2 separate regions of the Homo sapiens genome follow, and region 2 is linked to region 1. Evidence: fine-mapped expression QTL. A gene starts in region 1. The other region holds a variant in brackets. All regions are shown on one strand. Distances are between the middles of the regions. Region 1 holds the start of FASTKD5 (FAST kinase domains 5). Region 2 overlaps UBOX5 (U-box domain containing 5).

Evidence for each region. PIP is the estimated chance that this variant, and not a neighbour inherited with it, causes the effect.
Region 2: its variant is fine-mapped to the expression of FASTKD5 in tibial nerve (GTEx, PIP 0.94).

What each region holds. Positions count from the first base shown.
Region 1 is chr20:3,154,074-3,165,797 of GRCh38, reverse strand. It overlaps FASTKD5 (FAST kinase domains 5), which reads left to right and starts at 5,933. Exons shown (of 2, transcript NM_021826.5): 1 at 5,933-6,032. It overlaps UBOX5 (U-box domain containing 5), which reads left to right and starts at 5,933. Exons shown (of 5, transcript NM_014948.4): 1 at 5,933-6,032. LZTS3 (leucine zipper tumor suppressor family member 3) reads left to right here. Exons shown (of 5, transcript NM_001365618.1): 4 at 1-301; 5 at 646-3,181. The coding sequence ends at 1,344.
Region 2 is chr20:3,107,441-3,115,440 of GRCh38, reverse strand. It overlaps UBOX5 (U-box domain containing 5), which reads left to right. Exons shown (of 5, transcript NM_014948.4): 4 at 1-136; 5 at 5,127-7,868. The coding sequence ends at 5,335. It overlaps UBOX5-AS1 (UBOX5 antisense RNA 1), which reads right to left. Exons shown (of 7, transcript NR_038395.1): 1 at 7,870-8,000; 2 at 5,691-5,966; 3 at 4,988-5,163; 4 at 4,724-4,809; 5 at 3,689-3,797. Among named protein-coding and RNA genes, the nearest start is that of UBOX5-AS1, 4.5 kb to the right of the region's middle. The variant A/G (reference allele first, on the strand shown) is at 4,817.

The DNA.
Region 1 (11,724 bases):
CCTGGAGCAGAGCGAGGCGGCTGTGGCCCAGGTACTGGAGGAGCGGCAGAAGGCGTGGGAGCGGGAGCTGGCCGAGCTGCGGCAGGGCTGCAGCGGGAAGCTACAGCAGGTGGCCCGACGTGCCCAGCGCGCCCAGCAGGGCCTACAGCTGCAGGTGTTGCGGCTGCAGCAGGACAAGAAGCAGCTGCAGGAGGAGGCGGCCCGGCTGATGCGGCAGCGGGAAGAGCTGGAGGACAAGGTGGCCGCCTGCCAGAAGGAGCAGGCCGACTTCCTGCCCCGGATAGAGGAAACTAAGTGGGAGGTGCGGGCTGGGGATCTGGGCCTCCCCTCTGCCTCCCTTCTGTCCCTCTGGGAAACCCCAGAGCAGTTGCCCCTCACTATCATAACGGTGGGATGGGGGGGGGGATGAAAGGAGCAGGGGGGACAAAAATCAATTGGGAGTGTCTGTGAGGACCCGAGGCCATCCGCTGGGTGAGACATGTCCATCTTGAGTCCAGGCAGGGAATCGGGTGCGTCGCTGCTGATGAGGGGCTGAGCCTGCAGCCCCGGGAAGCTTGGTGCCCCTGGCTCCAGATCTGGTAGCTGGGTTGGGGTGAGCAGAGCTCTGCCTTTACCTGGCTTCTCCTCTCACCTGTTCCTGCCCAGGTGTGCCAGAAGGCTGGCGAGATCTCCCTCCTGAAGCAGCAGCTGAAGGACTCGCAGGCGGATGTGTCGCAGAAGTTGAGTGAGATCGTGGGACTGCGCTCGCAGCTGCGGGAGGGCCGGGCTTCGCTGCGGGAGAAGGAGGAGCAGCTGCTCAGCCTGCGGGACTCCTTCAGCAGCAAGCAGGCCAGCCTGGAGCTGGGCGAAGGCGAGCTGCCTGCCGCCTGCCTCAAGCCGGCGCTGACCCCCGTGGACCCGGCCGAGCCACAGGATGCTCTGGCCACCTGCGAGAGCGACGAGGCTAAGATGCGCCGTCAGGCCGGGGTGGCCGCTGCCGCCTCCTTGGTTTCCGTGGACGGGGAGGCGGAGGCTGGCGGGGAGAGCGGGACGCGGGCCCTGCGGCGGGAGGTGGGGCGGCTGCAGGCCGAGCTGGCGGCTGAGCGGCGGGCCCGGGAGCGCCAGGGTGCCAGCTTCGCCGAGGAGCGCCGCGTGTGGCTGGAGGAGAAGGAGAAGGTGATCGAGTACCAGAAGCAGCTGCAGCTGAGCTACGTGGAGATGTACCAGCGCAACCAGCAGCTGGAGCGCAGGCTGCGGGAGCGCGGGGCCGCAGGGGGTGCAAGCACGCCCACTCCCCAGCATGGCGAGGAGAAGAAGGCCTGGACCCCCTCCCGCCTCGAGCGCATTGAGTCCACAGAAATCTGATCGACCTGGGCACTCGGCATTTTGACACATGTCCTGTCAAAAGGCCAGAGTCCCCAGTGTCCCCTCCCCTCCATCTCTCTTCCCCATAGACCCCATAACCCCAGACCAAAGAGGTTCTCTAAGCAGCTGTGACCAGGTTCCTCCCTCCCCACCTGCCCTCCTAGCTCCAGCACTGCCCCCGTGGCAGCCCACTTGGACCCCCCTAAAAGGAGGGAATAGGAGGAGGGCAGGGTGAGTGGGGGCAATCCTAGGTGGTGGGGGAGTCATGCTCCCTTTCTCGGCACCCCCTTGTTGGAGATGGAGGCAGCAGACGTGCAGTGCCATAAGGTGCCCCAGTCCTTCTGGAGGCCTGGGCTGCTACTGTTGGCCACCCTGTGTCTAGTGATGCTCTCTGTGCTCACCTCCTAGGCCATGGAGCCTGAGGGGGCCTGCACCAGGTTTGCTGAAACTGACAGAGCCTGGGCTCCAGACCTCTCTCCCTCCTACAGTGCTCTCCCTCCCTGGGCAGATTGGCAGGACAAGTGGGAGCAGATGGCCTGCCTTTGGCTGAGAGGGCTACCTGCCCAGCCCCTCCCCCAACAAGATCTCTTGGACTCAGGCCTCAGAGCCTGGCCTGGTTGTGAGTGTGTGTCCCTGTGTGTGTGTTGCGGGAGGGGAGGACTGGGGCTGGAAGTCCAGCACCCAGGGAAGATCTGTCCTCCTGTTCTTGGGAAGCGTTGCCTGACGGCTTCTCGGCTCTACCCTCACCCTTCTGGCCAGGATCCCGCAGGGCAACAGCCCCATCTGCTTGGCTGACCCCACACCCAGGACCACTGTCCGGCTCTAACACAGCTATTAAGTGCTACCTGCCTCTCAGGCACTCTCCTCGCCCAGTTTCTGAGGTCAGACGAGTGTCTGCGATGTCTTCCCGCACTCTATTCCCCCAGCCTCTTTCTGCTTTCATGCTCAGCACATCATCTTCCTAGGCAGTCTCTTCCCCAAAGTCTCACCTTTTCTTCCAATAGAAAATTCCGCTTGACCTTTGGTGCACTGCCCACTTCCCAGCTCCACTGGCCCAAGTCTGAGCCGGAGGCCCTTGTTTTGGGGGCGGGGGGAGAGTTGGATGTGATTGCCCTTGAAGAACAAGGCTGACCTGAGAGGTTCCTGGCGCCCTGAGGTGGCTCAGCACCTGCCCAGGGTAGGCCTGGCATGAGGGGTTAGGTCAGCCAATGTCAGCTGCTTCTCTTGGGGCCCTCTCAGAGTCTATCTCCCCAAGACAGGAAGGGAAAAGCAAATTTCTAATTCACCAGCAATAAAAATTGGAGGAGGCTTGGCCCTCAGCCCTTATATCTCTCTCTTTTTCACTCTCTTCCTCCCACCCCCAAGACTGAGTTTTGGGGGGCAAGGTGGAGAGAGCTGGCAACTACTGTGAGCAAGTCCCCTAGCCCCTGACCAGCCTCCTCCCATGACTGGTGACTGTTTAATGAGCTGTGCATCCCCCACAAAAACATGAGTGCCCCTCTGTGTGGCCTCTAACCCTCTGCACAGCCCTTCTGGGTGGTCCTCACCAGGTCTCTGAGCTGGGTGGGAGGCCATCCTGGCGACCACTGCCCATTCCATTCACCCCTCACTGTACCTGCCCTAGAACCTGGGCCTAGGCCACAGGGGCAGGGAGAAGAGAAGGCATTAGTAAGAAAAAAATAGAAAAAAATATGAACAGACTCAGCTTTGGGACGTCCAACCACAAAAGAAATTATATATAAATATATATAAATATATATCTCTACCATATGTGATGGAAAGACTTTTTGTTTTCCTTTCCCAAAGAAATAAAACGGAAAAAGCCTCTTGAGTGGTATTCTTTGGCCTGCTTGTGTCTTTGCAGGTGCGGGAGGTGAGGCCCGGGTGGGGGATGGGGGCAAAGCTGGAGTAAACAGATTTCCCAGAGGAGGCATGAGACTGGAGGTGCTCACTGGGCCGTGCTAGGAGGTTGGCCCAAAGCCCAAGTTCTGCCACGTTGCCCGGGAAGAGTCGTGGTGCCATGTATATGCCCAGTGGGGCTTTCTCTTCAGCTCAGACTGTTGCCAAAGGGGTTAAAAGCTGGCTCCAGCTCAGAATCTGGACACTAAGCTGCTAGCCAGAAAACAGGTGACGCAGGACAGCTAGATGCAGCCTGCAGTCGCCTAAGCCACCTTACAGCAACTGGTAGATGTTTGCGGGCTGAATGGATAGAAGTGAAGACTGGGAACAGGTTTGCAATTAATGGCGAAGCCCCAAAGGCAAAAGGGACCCAAGCGTGCTGCACAGCAGAGAGCTTCCCTTTACAACAGTTCCTCTGTCATCCTCTCAAAGCACACAATCAAGAATGCACTCTGCTGTAAGTAATCAAAGGACCTCAAAGAGTGGTTTATTTTTCCCCAACCTGACAAGAAATCCGGAGGTGGTGTCATGGTTGTTGGATCCTCGGGGACCTAGATTTTCATCCTCCCACTGTTCCATCCTTGGCATGTTGTTCCCTCCTTACCACAAAGTGGCTGCCACAGCTCCATGAAGACATTGAGGCGGCCCTACTTTATCATGAAAAGTAAAAGCTTTCCCAGAGCCCTCCCAGGACCCTTCCCTTTAAGTCCTGTTGGCCAGAACTGAGCCACATGCTCCTCCCACTTCAAGGGAGAATGGGAATTTGAGTATTACAAAGAGAAACAGGATTGTCATGGCTGCCTAGGAACAAACATGGTTCATTCCTTGGGGGCAGGCTCTCTGCTTTCTCTGGGTTCTACTGGCAAGGACAGAGTCATAACAATGAATAGTGTTTGCCCTGGTCTGGCCTGAGGGAGAGAACCCTCCCTAAGCAGTGGTGTCTGTGGTCTGGGGCTCCAGATATTCAAACAGCGCTGTCTCCAGAGCTCAGGAGTTGGGATGTCAGGCTTGCCCCTCCTGGCAGGGACGTGTTCTTCCTACATTGATTTTGTCTTCCCTACAAGATAGGCCCTGGAGGGAGCATGATTTCTCAGCTCTCCTTCACACCCCTTAGAGCCAAGGCATTGACAAGATATGAAGACCCTGATCAGCAGATCTCAAGTGCCCTCAGGAATGGCAGCCTGGGGCCAGGACTTTCTGATAGGTAGAGGTTTAGTAGAGTCTCTTTCTTGTCTAGGTACCTATACTGACAGCTGTGTCAATATATGTACCCAGTAGGACCCAGCCCTCCTTCTTAGGGTGGTGGAGAATCACCCTGGCTCATGCTCCATAGCTCTGGCCTCGCTAAGCCCCAGCTCCACATCCATTTCTCTCAGCAGGCTCATCTATCCATCATGTCACTAGCTCTTTTCCTGAGAGCACTTTACAGATACATCTCTATTATAAATGCATTAAAAAAAAAAAAAGATGGAGTCTCACTGTTGCCCCGGCTGGAGTGCAGTGGTGCAATCTCGGCTCACTGCAACCTCTACCTCCTGCGTTCAAGTGATTCTCCTGCCTTAGCCTCCCAAGTAGCTGGGGTTACAGGTGCACGCCACCATGCCCCGCTAATTTTTTTTTGTATTTTTAGTAGAGACGAGGTTTCACCATGTTGGCCAGGCCGGTCTCCAACACCGGGGATTACAGGTGTGAGCCACCACACCCGACCAATGCATTGTTAAAATTAGACAGGTGTGGTGGTGCATGCCTGTGGTCTTAGCTACTCAGGAGGCTGAGGCAGGAGGATCACTTGAACCCAGGAGGTTGAGGCTGCAGTGAGCCATGATTGCACCATTGCACCCCAGCCTGGGCAATGGGGCAAGACTTTGTCTCAAAAAAAAAAAAAATGTATTGTTTTTCTCACTGTACAGGCTTAGAGAATTTATGTGGGCCGGGTGCGATGGCTCATACCTGTAATCCCAGTACTTTCGGAGGCTGAGGCGGCAGTATTGCATGAGCCCAGGAGTTCGAGACTAGCCTGGGCAACATAGGAAGACACTGCCATCCCCGTCTCTATGAAAATAATAATAATAATATAACAAGAATGAATTTATGTGACTTCTCCAAGGCCATAAAACCCTGAGTGGTGGTCCTCAGATTTGAACATGTGTCTAAGCTACTTACTTTTTTTTTTTTTTTTTTTTTTTTAGATGGAGTCTCGCTCTGTGTCCCAGAGCTGGAGTACAGGGGTGCCCAGACTGGAGTACAGTGGCGAGATATCGGCTCACTGCAACCTCCGCCTCCCGGGTTCAAGCGACTCTCCTGCTTCCGCTTCCTGAATAGCTGGATTATAGGCGTGCGCCACCACGCCCGGCTAATTTTTGTATTTTTAGTAGAGACGGGGGTTTCACCACGTTAGCCAGGCTGGTCTCGAACTCCTGAACTCAGGTGATCCGCCCGCCTTGGCCTCCCAAAGTACTGGGATTACAGGCGTGAGCCACCGCGCCGGGACTAAGCTGCTTAATGACTTCCAGAGCGATCCATCCAGGAAGGTGTTTTCCCTCTGCAGGTCCTAGACTCCCCCTGCCTCCTCAACAACGTCCTCCAGTGGAAAATGTCCTTGGGAAACGCTGACAGAGTCTTTTGAGCCTCGGCCGCATCCGTCACTCGCGCAGCAGGCGGAAGTAGCGGGCAGTTGGCCGGAAGTGGGGCTGTGAGGCTCGGAGTCGCCGGAGGAGCCAGTATCTGTGTCGCCGCCGCCCGCGGCGTCCCCGGTTTGGTGTTGCGGCGCCCACCTTCGGGAGGATCAGGTGAGTGGCGGCGGCCGGGGAGGAGGTCGCGGCGGCCTCTTTCCGCGTTCACGACCGTCCTGGGCCTTGGCCTGTGCCTCCTGTCCTCCCGGCCGGCCCAGAGCTGGAGCGCATCGAGGCCTTGTTCAGCTCTTGGCCTGGGTTGCCAGTGCCTCTCGCAGGCCTGGCTGTGGTGAGAACTTCAGTGACTCTCGCCGCTCCTGAGTTTGTGATCTTTGGCAGGGGGCTTATCTGACCCTTGATTTTTTTTCCTCTGTGAAATGGAGATCGTAACAGTACTTGTCTCACGGTGCTGTTAAGAGAATGTAGTCAGATATTCTGCCGCGCCTCTCATCACACTTTGATGTGCCTGCGAATCGCTTAGAGATTCTGATTCTGTAGGACTGGGGTGGGTTCTGAGATAACTGTGTTCCTAACTAGATTCCAGACGAGGCTGAAGCCTCTGGCACGCAGACCACACACTGAGTAGCAAGGCCCTACAGTATGTTGCTTAGCATTTGGGATGCGGAGTCTTCGGTAAACATCAGTATGATAGGATATATACCTTCCCCCCATTTTTAGCAGTTTCTCGTTGCACAAGCCTAAGGGTAGTATTGATGGCCTTCTCCCTTTTTCTTTCCGTGGGTAAGAATAGTTGCTCTTTCTCTTTCTGTGCAAACCGTGACACAGCTCTTCTGTCTTGACTCAGGGAACTTTGGGTCCCCTCATATCAGCTGTGTTCATCAGTCTTGGGTGATGCTTCACTGATCAGACCCTTGGACAGTGCTTCATCCTGTGGAGCTGATAGCCAGCTGCGTTAGCACCAACTGTGGCTGGCGTTTTGTGCTCCAGTCATTTGTTGCTGCTGGAATCTGAATTCACGTTTTCTACACTTTGTGAATAGTAAGAATGGCTGCCTTTCCAGAACTAGATTCTGTAGCTCACTGACCTGAATGGTCCTGGGCAAGTCCTTGGATAGTTTGCTACTACCTGGTAGACTAAAATAAAATCTGGGCCGGACACAGTGGCTCACGCCTGTAATCCCAGCACTTTGGGAGGTCAAGGCGGGCGGATCACGAGGTCAGGAGATCGAGACCATCTTGGCTAATATGGTGAAACCCCGTCTCTACTAAAAATACAAAAAAATAGCTGGGCGTGGTGGCGGGCGCCTGTAGTCCCAGCTACTCTGGAGGCTGAGGCAGGAGCGTGGCGTGAACCCCGGGAGGCGGAGTGTGCAGTGAGCCGAGATCGCGCCACTGCACTCCAGCCTGGGCGAGAGAGCGAGAGTCCGTCTCAAATAAATGAATAAATAAATAAATAAATAAGTAAATAAAATCTGAAGACTCTGTGCTGCATAACATAACTTAAAAAGTGAGGCCTTTGGCAGTTATGCAGGTCTAATGTTTATTAGTCAGTATGATTTTCTTCCCCATCCATTGGTTTATTTTTTTAGTCCCTAATAAGGCCTTGCCATTCATCATGTGAATAAGTCAACTTTGATATAAAATAATTCTAAGGTCAGGTGCGGTGGCTCATGCCTGTAATCCCAGCACTTTGGGAGGCCGAAGTGGAAGGATTACTTGAGCCCAGGAGTTCGAGACCAACCTGGGGGCAACATAGGGAAACTCTGTCTCTACGAAAAAAACAAAAAACAAAAAAAACACACAAAAAAACAAAATGTAGCCAGGCGTGGTGGTGGGCTTGTAGTCCAAGCTACTTAGGAGGCTGAGGTGGGAGGATCGTTTGAGATCCTTGAGCGATCCTCGCCCGGGAGGTTGCCGGGGTGAGAGGTGGGGGGCAGTGGTCGAGGATGCAGTGAGCGGAGATTGCACCACTGCCCTCCAGACTGAACAACAGAGCGAGACCCTGTCTGAAAAAAAAAACAAAAGAATTCTGAAACTCCTTCTTTATTTGTCTGAAGTATGTACTATACAGCCTCTATACAGCCTTGCAAATTGTAAAAGCAGATAAAACCAAGTGTTTATTGAGCTAACAGTTATAGGTACTTGGACCATTTATTTGGGAATTTTCTCTTATGACGACTGTGTGCATGCAGCTACTTCTCTTTACCTGCCTGGATTTTGTAATTCCTCTAGAAGCCCCATTTAGATGGGCTGAGAGGACATGAGTGCCTACTGCCTGTTGTTATATGGAGAGGTTTTCTAAAGACAGGGTTTTATGAAACCCTTTAAAAGCAGTAGCTCTAACAGAATCATCTACAGGGCTTAGTCATACTATATCTACCCACATCCTTCTTGCCATTCTGATAGAGGAATAGCAGAGTCTTAAAAGAGAAGCGGAAGGGCTGTGTAGCTGAAAAAGTTTCACAAATGTTTGTGATGTGCTGTTTTTCTCCTATCAGCATGGAGTCTAGAACAAAAAGGAAGGGATGGATTGCTAGACTGAATAATTTTAGTTTGGCTTAGACCTGCGAGTGACACTGAACTTGACCTAAACACCTTTGCACTAGTGCTTCACCTTCGCAGTACTGGTAGACTCCTCTCTGAGGCCCTGCTCCCGTGTGGAAACAGAAACACAGAAGAGTCTAGCCCAGTTAACATCCACATTAACAGCTAAGGTCCTTACTGCCAGTCTCTAAGCCCTCACTAGGGGCTTTGAAGTTTTGTAGATTCTCAGCAGAATACCTCAGCACCTAGAGAAAGTTCGGTTTTTTTGCCCTTTTTTTTTGGTAGAGACAGGGTCTCGCCATGTAGCCCAGACTGGTCTTGAACTCCTGGCCTCACGTGATCTGCCTGCTCGGCCTTCCAAAGTGCTGGGATTATGGTCATGAGCCACCTGTCTAGCCAGTTTTTTTGCCTTTTTAATTCTTAAGGTTGCTCAACAAATTATTTGCTGAGACAAGAATAGGGTTGGAGTGTTCATTTATTTGTGGCAATTTTATTGGGACATAGAAAGGAAAAGTGTTAGAATTGAGGGATCAGATCTGGTAAGTGGTAAATTGTATGTGTTTAAGGTGTCTTATACTCAGTCTACAGTTAGCATCGCTCCTTCCTCTGCCTGGCCCCCCTCCTCTAACTTCTAGACTCTAGTTTAAAATGAAGCTATTCGGCTCTGCTCAGACCGGTATGTGGAAGGGAGAAAGGTAAGATTCTTCAGTCCTGTGAAATCACATCATTCAGGGAGGTTTGGGCATTGCCTTTTGGAACTGACAGGGTCCAGGAGTGTCTGAGGCTCTACTCTGTTTCGTTAGGACCCCTAAAGGGGAGAAAGGTATACTTGGGGCACTTAAACTAGGAAAGGAGTTTTGTGAAATCATATCAGGTATCTTTGACCTTTATTGAAAGAGTCAGGCCGGGCGTGGTGGCTCCTGCCTGTACTCAGTACTTTGGGAGGCCAAGGCAGGTGGATCACTTGAGGCCAGGAGTTTGAGACCAGCCTGACCAACATGGCAAAACCCCGTCTCTACCAAAAAATACAAAAAAATTAGGTGGGCATGTTGGCGTGAGCCTTTAGTCTCAGCTACTTGGGAGGCTGAGGCAGGAGAATTACTTAAACCCGGGATGCAGAGGTTGCAGTGAGCTGAGATCACGCCACTGCACTCCAGCCTGGGCAACAGAGCAAGACTCTGTCTCAAAAAAAAAAAAAAAAAAAAGAGTCAGAAGTTAATTGACTGAGCATCTCATAGTGTTCTCTTTCCAGCTTTCCTATGGATTTTCTGAGAGTCTTTGAGTAAGGAGGAACTAACCTTCTCAGGTATGTTTTCGCTATCTGGTCATCCTGACTGCTGCTTCTTTGCAGTGTCTTTTCTCCCTACTGTTCTTCTCTGCTGCTTCTGTATCTTCCTTGTTTTTCTTTCCTTCTCCACAGTACTCAAGACCAACTTCTGAAGTCCTCTGTTTCAGACCTGTGTATGTAGATACAGTTTCTATAGAGTTACTGTAAATGTTGCATAGTGAAAAGAGTAAGTAGCCACTGTTTACCATTTGTAGGTTGGCTCTTCATGCCTCTAAGATTCCTTATTTTGTTATCATTTCTGTTATTGAACATCTTTAAAGAAGTTCTTAGGTAGTAGAAAGTGCTTGCACTAAAAATAACTTTTCAACATTTTCCTTATCTATTAAGCTACTTTCTCCATTCATTATCTTGAACAATACCATAATATCTTCATAATACATGGATTTTTTAATTTAATTTTTGTCAAAATTGTACATGTACATGGTTTAAACAGTCAAATAGTTCAGTAGAGCTTGTAACACTAAATAATAGTTTCCTCTCCCGACCCACTTTTTTTTTTTGAGATGGAGTTTCGCTCTGTTGCCCAGACTGGAGTGCAGTGGTGCGACCTCGCCTCACCACAACCTCTGCCTCGCGGGTTCAAGTGATTCTCCTGCCTCGGCCTTCTGAGTAGCTGAGATTACAGGTGCCTGCCACCATGCCTGGCTAATTTTTTGTATTTTTAGGAGAGACGTGGTTTCGCCACGTTGGCCAGGCTGGTCTCAAACTCCTGACCTCAGGTGATCCTCCTGCCTCAGCCTTCCAAAGTGCTGGGATTACAGACTTGAGCCGCTGTGCCCAGCCTACTTTTTGTATTTTTAGTAGAGACAGGGTTTCACCATGTTACCCAGGCTGGTCTAGAACTCCTGGCCTAAAGCAATCCGCCCACCTCAGCTTCCCAAAGTGCTGGGATTACAGGTGTGAGCCACTCACTGATCCTGGCCATCACTATATTTATTTTTTCTTTTCTTTTCTTTTCTTTTTTTTTTTTTTTTTTTTGAGACTGTGTCTTGCTCTGTCGCCCAGGCTGGAGTGCAGTGGCACGATCTTGGTTCACTGCAACCTCTGCCTCCTGGGTTCAAGTGATCCTCCTGCCTCAGCCTCCCAAAATATTGGGATTACAGTTGTGAGCCACCACACCTGTCCAATTGTACTTCTTTATTATGGACTTTGAGGCTCTAGGTCTCTTGTATCATCAACCTCCCCCTACTCCTCCTCTTACTCACTTTATCCTCCCAATATAGTTTGCTCATAATTTTTGGTTAGGCTAATATCAAGATTTATATTAATAAAATTATGTTAGTATTATTCTCAACTGAATAGGGAGTATGATATACTAATATTTTCTTTACTCTTTTTATTTATTTATTTATTTTTTGAGATAGGGTCTCTCTCTGTCACCCTGCCATAGCAGGATCACAGCTCACTGCAGCCTTAACTTTTTGGGCTCAAGCAACCTTCCCACTTCTACCTCCTGAGTAGCTAGGACCACAGGTGTGTGCCACCAGGCTTGGCTAATTTCTAAATATTTTGTAGAGGTGGGGGTCTCACTACATTGCCCAGGCTGGTCTCAAACTCCCGGCCTCAAGTGATCTTCTCACTTTGGCCTCCCAGAGTACTATGATTACAGGAATGGGCCATTGCATCCTGCCTGTGGTAACATATTCTATCTTGTATAACTTTTTTGTCTTCCCTGGCATTAATAATTTTTGTTACTGTTTTTATTAGCATGGCTTTTTGTATCCTTATCTCTTGTTCATGCCCGGATTATCCGGTAGAAGTATGATTCTCCTCTCCTGGGTACTGTCTATGTCGTCCAGCATGAGCTGGTTGCTCTTTATGTCTGTTCACAGCTCTTGTCCTGGGATCTTCCTTCACCTTTTTCCTGGGATTTCCCTTTGCTTCTCTGTATTGAACCCTAGTTTCTGGATCCCATATCTCTACTGCCAACTTTCAGGTCTTCAATTGTGGTAGCTCT
Region 2 (8,000 bases), 48 kb after region 1:
TCACAAAGCTTGGAAATTGCCTTGGCATCCACCCTTGGCTCTATGCCCTCCTTCACGGCACGGCTGACCAGGGGACAGCTCCAGCACCTTGGCACAAGAGGGAGCAACACTTCCTGGAGGCCTGGCACCGGCTCGGGTAACATGGGCCCCGCCATCTCCTTGGAGCCTTGGAATGGGTGGTCTGTTTTCTGTCTCTGGATGCTGGGCCGAGTCCCTGGGGGCTCTGTGGACCTGCCTGGCCAGCCTCCCCGTCAGTTCCAACACCCACCCTGGGAGAGAACCTGTTCTCTTGCCTTTTCCAGGGGTAGTTGAGGGGCTGCCTATGAACTTAAACTCCCCACAAGAAAGGCTTTCTTTAGTCAATCCTTAGTAATTCTGTGGATGTAGGGCTTGGCCACCCTCTGATGTGTTTCCTTGTGAGATCTAATGTTAATTATTTTCTCCTGAGGATTTTTGTTTCTCTTTTTTTTGTTTGTTATTTATTTATTTATTTGAGACTGCATCTCGCCCTGTTGCCCAGGCTGGAGTGCAGTGGCACAGTCTCAGCTCACTGCAACCTCCGCCTCCTGGATTCAAGCTATTCTCCTGCCTCAGCCTCCTGAGTAGCTGGGATTACAGGCGCCCGCCACCATGCCCGGCTAATTTTTTGTATTTTTAGTAGAGACGGGGTTTCACCATGTTGCCAGGCTGGTCTCGAACTCCCGACCTCGTGATCCGCCCGCCTCGGCCTCGCAAAGCGCTGAGATTACAGGAGTGAGCCACCGCGCCTGGCCTTTTTTGTTATTTTTTTCTCATCTAGCCAGTCTGCAGTCTGACATCCGGGGCACTTTATGTAAATGTGAAGAGAGGTTTGGTTGGGTTTGTCGTCCTCATCCCTTCAGATTAACACTTCCGTCAGTGTCTTAGAAAGAGCAGTGGCAGCTTATGGGCCAATTTTGCCTAAAATGAACCTTGACCCCCATTGTATGCCAGAATCTATTAGGATACAAAGCAACAGAAACTGATTGCAACGGGAGGCATTTTTTACGAGATGGAGCTCCTGCTGTGCGAAACGCCTTCTCTCTTGGCTTTTAGGCTGTTTTGCTTCTTTTCTCCTATCTTCGGTGGTCCCTCTTCAGTTTCCATTGCCAATTGCCTTCTCTACCAGCTCTGGCCCTGGACTCTCTAATCTCAATATTCTCTGTTACCCAAGTGAAAACTCACATCTCCGGCAACTGTCCATGTTCCCCTGTAGCTCCTGCTTCTCCTTGGAACTCATCCTGCCGCCCTGACAGCACTCAACATCCTCTCTCTTTTTTCTTTTTTTAAGATGGAGTCTTGCCCCTGTTGCCCTAGCTGGAGTGCGATGGCGCGATTTCAGCTCACTGCAACTTCCGCCTCCTAGGTTCAAGTGATTCTCCTGCCTCAGCCTCCCAAGTAGCTGGGATTACAGGCACCCGCCACCACGCCCAGCTAATTTTTGTATTTTTAGTAGAGATGGGGTTTCACCATGTTGGCCAGGCTGGTTTTGAACTCCTGACCTCAGGTGATCCATCTGCCTCGGCCTCCCAAAGTGCTGGGAATACAGGCATGAGCCATCATGGCCAGGCTCAGCATCCTCTCTAAAGGAAACATTCAGACTCTGTACTGCTCACATCTGCCCTCCAGAGCTTTTCCCCCTCACTGCCCCCATCATCCTACCTGGGTAAGGGCAGCATCTTCTGTCTTGTGGTGAGGCTTCTAACACAGAAGTCATTCTCGAGTTCCTTCAGTGTCCCCATCCTGACATTCTGTTCATTATCAGGTCCTGTCCATCCTCCCCCAAGGTGACCTCAGGTTAGTCCCCTGCTCTCCTTCTGTGGCCCCTCCCCTGGCTGCAGCTCCCACTGCCTCACTCCCAGACTCCTGCAGTAGCCCCTGCTGGTATCCCCCCATCCTCGCCTTACTGTGGCTCATCATACTCATAGCAGTTGGATCTTTTTATCATGTCAGCCCATCACCATGCTCCACTTCTTCAAATCCTACCATGGCATCCCCTGAACTTAGGATAAAACCTCAACTCCTACTCCCTCTGAGGTCCTGCCTGCTGGAGCCCCCATGTCTCCTCCTCTGCAGTCTTATCTGAAGCCCACTCTCACTGTGTCTTTTTTTTTTTTTTTTTTTTGAGACAGAGTCTTGCTCTGTTTCGCTCTGTTGCCCGGGCTAGAGTACAATGGCGCAATCTCGGCTCACTGCAACCTCCACTTCCTGGGTTCAAGCAATCTTCCTGTCTCAGCCCCCACTAGTAGCTGGGATTACAGGCAAACGCCACCAAGCCCAGCTAATTTTTTTTTTTTTTTTTTGTATATTTAGTAGAGACAGCGTTTCGCCATGTTGGCCAGGCTGGTCTCGAACTCCTGACCTCAGGTGATCTACCTGCCTCAGCTTCCCAAAGTGCTGGGATTACAGGTGTGAGCCTCTGCACCCAGCTTCACTGTGTCTTTTTCTTTTCTTTTTGAGATGGAGTCTCGCTCTGTCGCCCAGGCTGGAGTGCAGTGGCACAATCCTGGCTCACTGCAACCTCTTTCTCCCTGGTTCAAGCAATCCTCCTGTCTCAGCCTTCTGAGTAGCTGGGGCTACAGGCGCCCGCCACCACGCCCGGCTAATTTTTGTATTTTTAGTTAGAAACGGGGTTTCGCTATGTTGGTCAGGCTGGTCTCGAACTCCTGACCTCAGGTGATCCACCCACCTCGGCCTCCCAGAGTGCTGGGATTACACTGGGATTACAGGTGTGAGCCACCGTGCCCGACCACTGTGTCTTTTTCTTTAACGGATAGGCTGTTCTTTGTGCTTGCTCTCCTTTCATTCTGTGTGGCTGGCCCCTTTTTATTCTCACAGCTCTTCCTACAGGAGGCCATGTTAGCCCACCCTTTTCAAAGCAAGCCCTCTTTTTTATCCTCTCTGTCACCTCAGTTTGCAGTTATATACTTGGGTTTCCATCCTGCCCAGGGCACAATAATTGTCTTTTCCTTGATGATTTTTTTTTTTTTTTTTCTGTCACTGAAACTGCCCCTGGGGCTCTGGGCCTCTGAGATCTTTTAATGGGACTTCTGGTCAGTGCTGGGGGCAATTGGGGCCCTTGCATGCTTCTGTGGTGTTGTGCCAGGTGTGCTTTTTAAAACTGATGGAAAATAAATTCTCATCATGCACTGTGGGTCAGGCAGATCTCTGAAGCCTCTGGCAGAGCCTGCATGAAAGGGGCACCACTGAAAAGCAGTCAGTGGCTCTTTCCTCCTGCTTCCTCCCCTCCCTTCTTTCCCCCCTCCCTCCCCACCTTCATTCCTCCCTCCTTCCCTTCCCTGTAGAGGTTCAACTTTCCACTCACTGGGGAATTTTTGGCTTGTGTGCACAGGAGAGGCACCCGGTACTTTTATGTTGCTTAATGTTTGGCCCAAAGAAAACACCCGCAGCCAGGCCACTCTTTCCTGGCTACAGTTCTCAGGGATGCGGAGGCAGGAACACTTCAGTTCCTGCTCCCCGTGTAGGGCACCCCTGCCCTCCCTTCTTTGGTGCCTGGTGCCCGAGTGTAGATGGCAGGTCCATTCATCACATGTGGATGGAGCACTTGCCCTGTGAGGTGCTGCGCCAGGTCCTGAGGCCGGATGAGAAACATGGACATAGTCCTGACCCTCAGGACCTGCAAAGCCTGGGGAGGAAGTAGGCATCCTACCTTGGAGGCTGAGAAGGGCTGGTGGGCTCTGAAAGCACAGGAAAGGGGCAATCCGGGGTGGCGTCATGGAATGGGTGTGGTCTAAGCCAGGTCTCCAGATAAGGGCATTCTAGGCAGAGGGAACAGCAAGCACAAAGTGAGGAGGCCAGCAGCGCAGAGTGTGCAAAGAAGTGATTGGAAGCTGCTGGACTCTAAAAGTTGAGACTGGTGTGAAGAGAGGTGAGGAGGCTGGGTGGGCCGTGCAGGGAGTCTTGACTGTCCCGAAAGTTGGGAAGCTCCTAAGAGGTAGAAAGCAGAGTTATGGGGTGGTCAAGTTACATAGGTGGGTCATTGGAGGCAGCTTTGAGGACAGATTGAGAAGACAAGCCTGGAGCAGGTGAATAGTTAGGAAGAGATGTGTCGAGCGGCCTGGATTATGGTGATGAAATGGACAGAGAGAAGGGGGGTTAAGAAACAATTCTGAAGCAAATTGGTTTGAGGTTCCTTTGGGGTCCTCCAGAGAGTAGTGGCTAGGAATGGAGACATGGACCACAAGGAGGACAGGCAAGCCCATCCCCTGTCACTCTCCAGAGGGGCCATGAGGAAAGGAAGAGCCGTGGGTGCAGCCTGGTGGGGCATGGCCAGAGCTGCTCACTGTGACCCTCATTCAAGGATGCCCTGAAGGAGTTGCGGAAGAAGGGAGAGCCTGCCGAGAGGGCCAGGGCAGCACAGGAGGGGGACTGAGGAGTCAGGAGCAGGGCTGCCAGTAGCAGTGAGGGGGCTGCAGGCTGCAGGGCTGAAGGGAGCAGGAGCTAGGCCCCAGTGGCAGGTGCACTGCAGGCCTCAGCCTTGTCTCTGCTGACCTCCCTTCTCACACTTCCCCAACCTTGGTGCACTGGACCATGTGCTGCTTTTCCTTTTTTTTTTTTTTTCTTTTTTGTAGAGACAGTATCTCACTATGTTGCCCAGGCTGGTCTCGAACTCCTGGCTTCAAGTGATCCTCCTGTCTCAACCTCCCAAAATGCTGGGATTACAGGCTTGAGCCACCCCACTGACCTGCCTTTTCCTTCTCTTGTCGCCTCTCACATTTCTTGCAGTTTATCTTGTCAGAGTGAGCTGTGCCTTGCTCCAGCCTTGGCCACCTATCGC[A/G]GGGGAAAGTAAACCTTGCTGGGAGACCAGGAGGAAGGGCCCAGTCCTGCCTGCTGCCCTCAGAAGCCAGCTCTTCTCAAGCATTCGTAGAGGCACTGAGATTTGGTCAAAGATGATAGAGAAGAGGCCTCCCGGGTTCCCAGGCTCCCTCTCCCGCTTCCACTCCCCTACCTGATCAGACTGGGATGGACTCGGGAGGGATGAAGCCAGATGCTGCAGCAGCACGGTGGGAAGGCTCTGCCCCTCAGAGCAGCCTGGACCATGGAGCAGCTTTCCTAACCCTGGCCTGTTTTCCTTCCTGATTTACCAGAGCAGCCTGGGAGCATCCTGGGCCCCGAATGTGCCTCCTGCAAAAGAGTATTTTCTCCCTACTTCAAAAAGGAGCCGGTGTACCAGCTGCCCTGCGGCCACCTCCTGTGCCGACCCTGCCTGGGTGAGAAGCAACGCTCCCTGCCCATGACGTGCACAGCCTGCCAGCGGCCGGTTGCTAGCCAAGACGTGCTGCGGGTCCACTTCTGAGTGACTGACCTCCACTGGAGGAGACCCATTGCTGGGAGGAGCTGAGGGGGAACAGGAGCAGGGCCACAGCACCCCTGAGGTCTGGCCAGGCCCCAGGCACAGAGCTGCCTGCTCCCTCCCGGGGCTCTTCTTCATCACCTCACGGTATAGCACATTGCTTCTGCGCTGGTGGCAATAGGGCAACAAAGCCATAGGCCAGAGGGCGGGGGGATGTCCCTGCCTCCCTGCCACCCCCCCTGCCTGAGCCCAGGACCCACTGGAGCCAGCCCCACCCTAGGCAGGAAGACCCCTGCTGAGGGCCCCCCCGTGCAGTCCGCATACCCCCCTGTCCAGCAGGGCACTGTGGGTGGCTCACCCTAGATTGTGGCCCAGATCTCAGGAGTCTCTGCCTTCAGGGTCATCCAAAAGTGGACCTTGGGAGCAGTGGGGGTGTCTGTGGAGTGCATGACTCAGCCCCCCGACTCGCAGCCTTAATAAAGCGATGGTTGACGTCTGCTGTGGGTTTCCTCCTGGTGGAGTGCCTGTCTGTGTCACACACTCCTGTCGCCCACCTGCACCCACACAAGTGGAGCTCACAGGGTAGCTGTGTGCAGTCACTGCAGCTTGCCAGGCTGTCATTCCTGTCGATGACCTGAAAGGACACAAACTGGAATTTTCAGGTCTGTCCCCTGCATGGGGACTCAGAACCCAGGTTTGCAGGTGGGCATACGTGGTGGGAGGGTGGAGGGCTCCCTCTGGCCAGTGCCAGCTGTGCTCAGCTGGCTTCAGAAACTGCTCCCTGAGGGGGAGCGCAGCGTTTCCTCATGCAGTTGGTTTCAGGAAAAATACTTGTTTATAGGCTGCATCCTTTTTTCAGCCCAACATTTAGCTTTATGGAGTGCCAAAGGGAAAATATATCCATATCCCTACAACTTGGTACTCTATCAGATTCCAGCCACTAGAAGAACCTCAGTGAGAAAACACACCCGCCTTTCCCTGTTCCCTTCTAAGCACGTTTGGGAAGGAACAGCCTAAAGATGCTTTGTAAAGCTGTATTTTACCCTTGAGCTTAGCCGCGGGTCCCTGTGAACCGGCACATTCCTTTCCTTTAGGCCGTCCAGAGCTCTAGTCCACACCCAATACTTTAGAGATCTGGGTTTGGGGTTAGTTGCTTTTTTTTTTTTTTTTTTAATTGAGACAGGGTTGGTCTCTGTTGCCCAAGCTTGAGGGCAGTGGTGCAATCATAACTCATTGCAGCCTCGAACTCCTGGGCTTAAGGGATCCTTCTACCTCAGCCTCCCAGGTAGCAGGAACTATAGGCATGTGCCACCATGCCCAGCTAATTTTTTTATTTTTTGTAGAGACAAGGTCTTGCTATGTTGTCCAGACTGGTCTCAAACTCCTGGGCTCAAGCGATCCTCCCAAAGTGCTTGGATTGCAGGCATGAGCCACTTCGCCTAGCCAAGCCTGCATTTTTTTGAGTTCCTACATCATTTGTCCACAAAGATGGCTTCAGAGAGGTGGTCACATGCTTTGCTCTGCTTCCTCTTGGCACTGACCTTGATGCAGCCTTCACATGAGATTTGAGGGTCCGCATGGATGGCCTGTGCCGCCCTCGCTGGCGAGGCTCCTGTGTGCCCCTGGCTTTCTGGGTCTGTGCCTCTCCAGAATCTTGTCTTACCCTCCGGTGTGCTTGTGTTCTTAGAAAAGCCCCAGCATGGCCGGGCATGGTGGCTCATGCCTATTATCCCAGCACTTTGGGAGGCCAAGGTGGGTGGATCACTTGAGGTCAAGAGTTCGAGACCAGCCTGGCCAACATGGCAAAACCCCATCTCTACTAAAAATACAAAAATTAGCTGGGCATGGTGGTGTGTGCCTGTAATGCCAGCTACTCAGGAGGCTGAGGCATGAGAATCGCTTGAACCGGGGAGGCAGAGGTTGCAGTGAGCCGAGATCTCACCACTGTACTCCAGCCTGGGCGACGGAGTGAGACTCCCTCTCAAAAAAAGAAAAAAGCCCCAGCATGTAGCAAAAGCATTTCTTGGTGAGTGTGGGGGCTGGTGATTCCCACCTTCACCCTGTCATGGTCTCAGGGAACAGCCTGCTTCCCACCAGCAGCTTGACACCCACAGTGTGCTCTGGCTGCTGGGAGCCCATCTCTCGGAGAAACCCTGTCCACCCAACCCCGAGAGCCCTAGCGTGCAGTCAGCGTCAGCACGGCGCTCCCAGATGAGGGCCGGACTGCCTCCCCTTAAGCAGCTGTGTTGGAGGTACTGCCCAGACCGCTGCAGGTCCCTGGGGATCTGCATTTCTAACAGGCTCCTGCCCCCAAGACTGCTCTGGTGGAAAATCCAGCCTGGGAGCCCCTGGAGTGGCAGGCCCTGTCCTGGGTACAGGTGGAGCCACCCCCAGGAGTTGCGTGTGTTTTTCTTAATTGAAAGACTTCCCCCAAAAGGAAGTGGTCTTTTCACTACCCTTGCCAGAAACATGCTAGGCACCACTGGGCTCTGTTTCTGTCCCCTAGAAAATGGGAATAAAATTTCTTTTGCTGTCACCTGGCTCTGAAGGCAGTTTATTTCTCACTAGAGCCTGGACCCAGGCACAGAACAGCTGTAAACACGCAGAGTTTAAGTCCACGGACGGAGAAGACTCAGGACCTCAGAGCCTTGCTGTGGCCCTGCTGCCC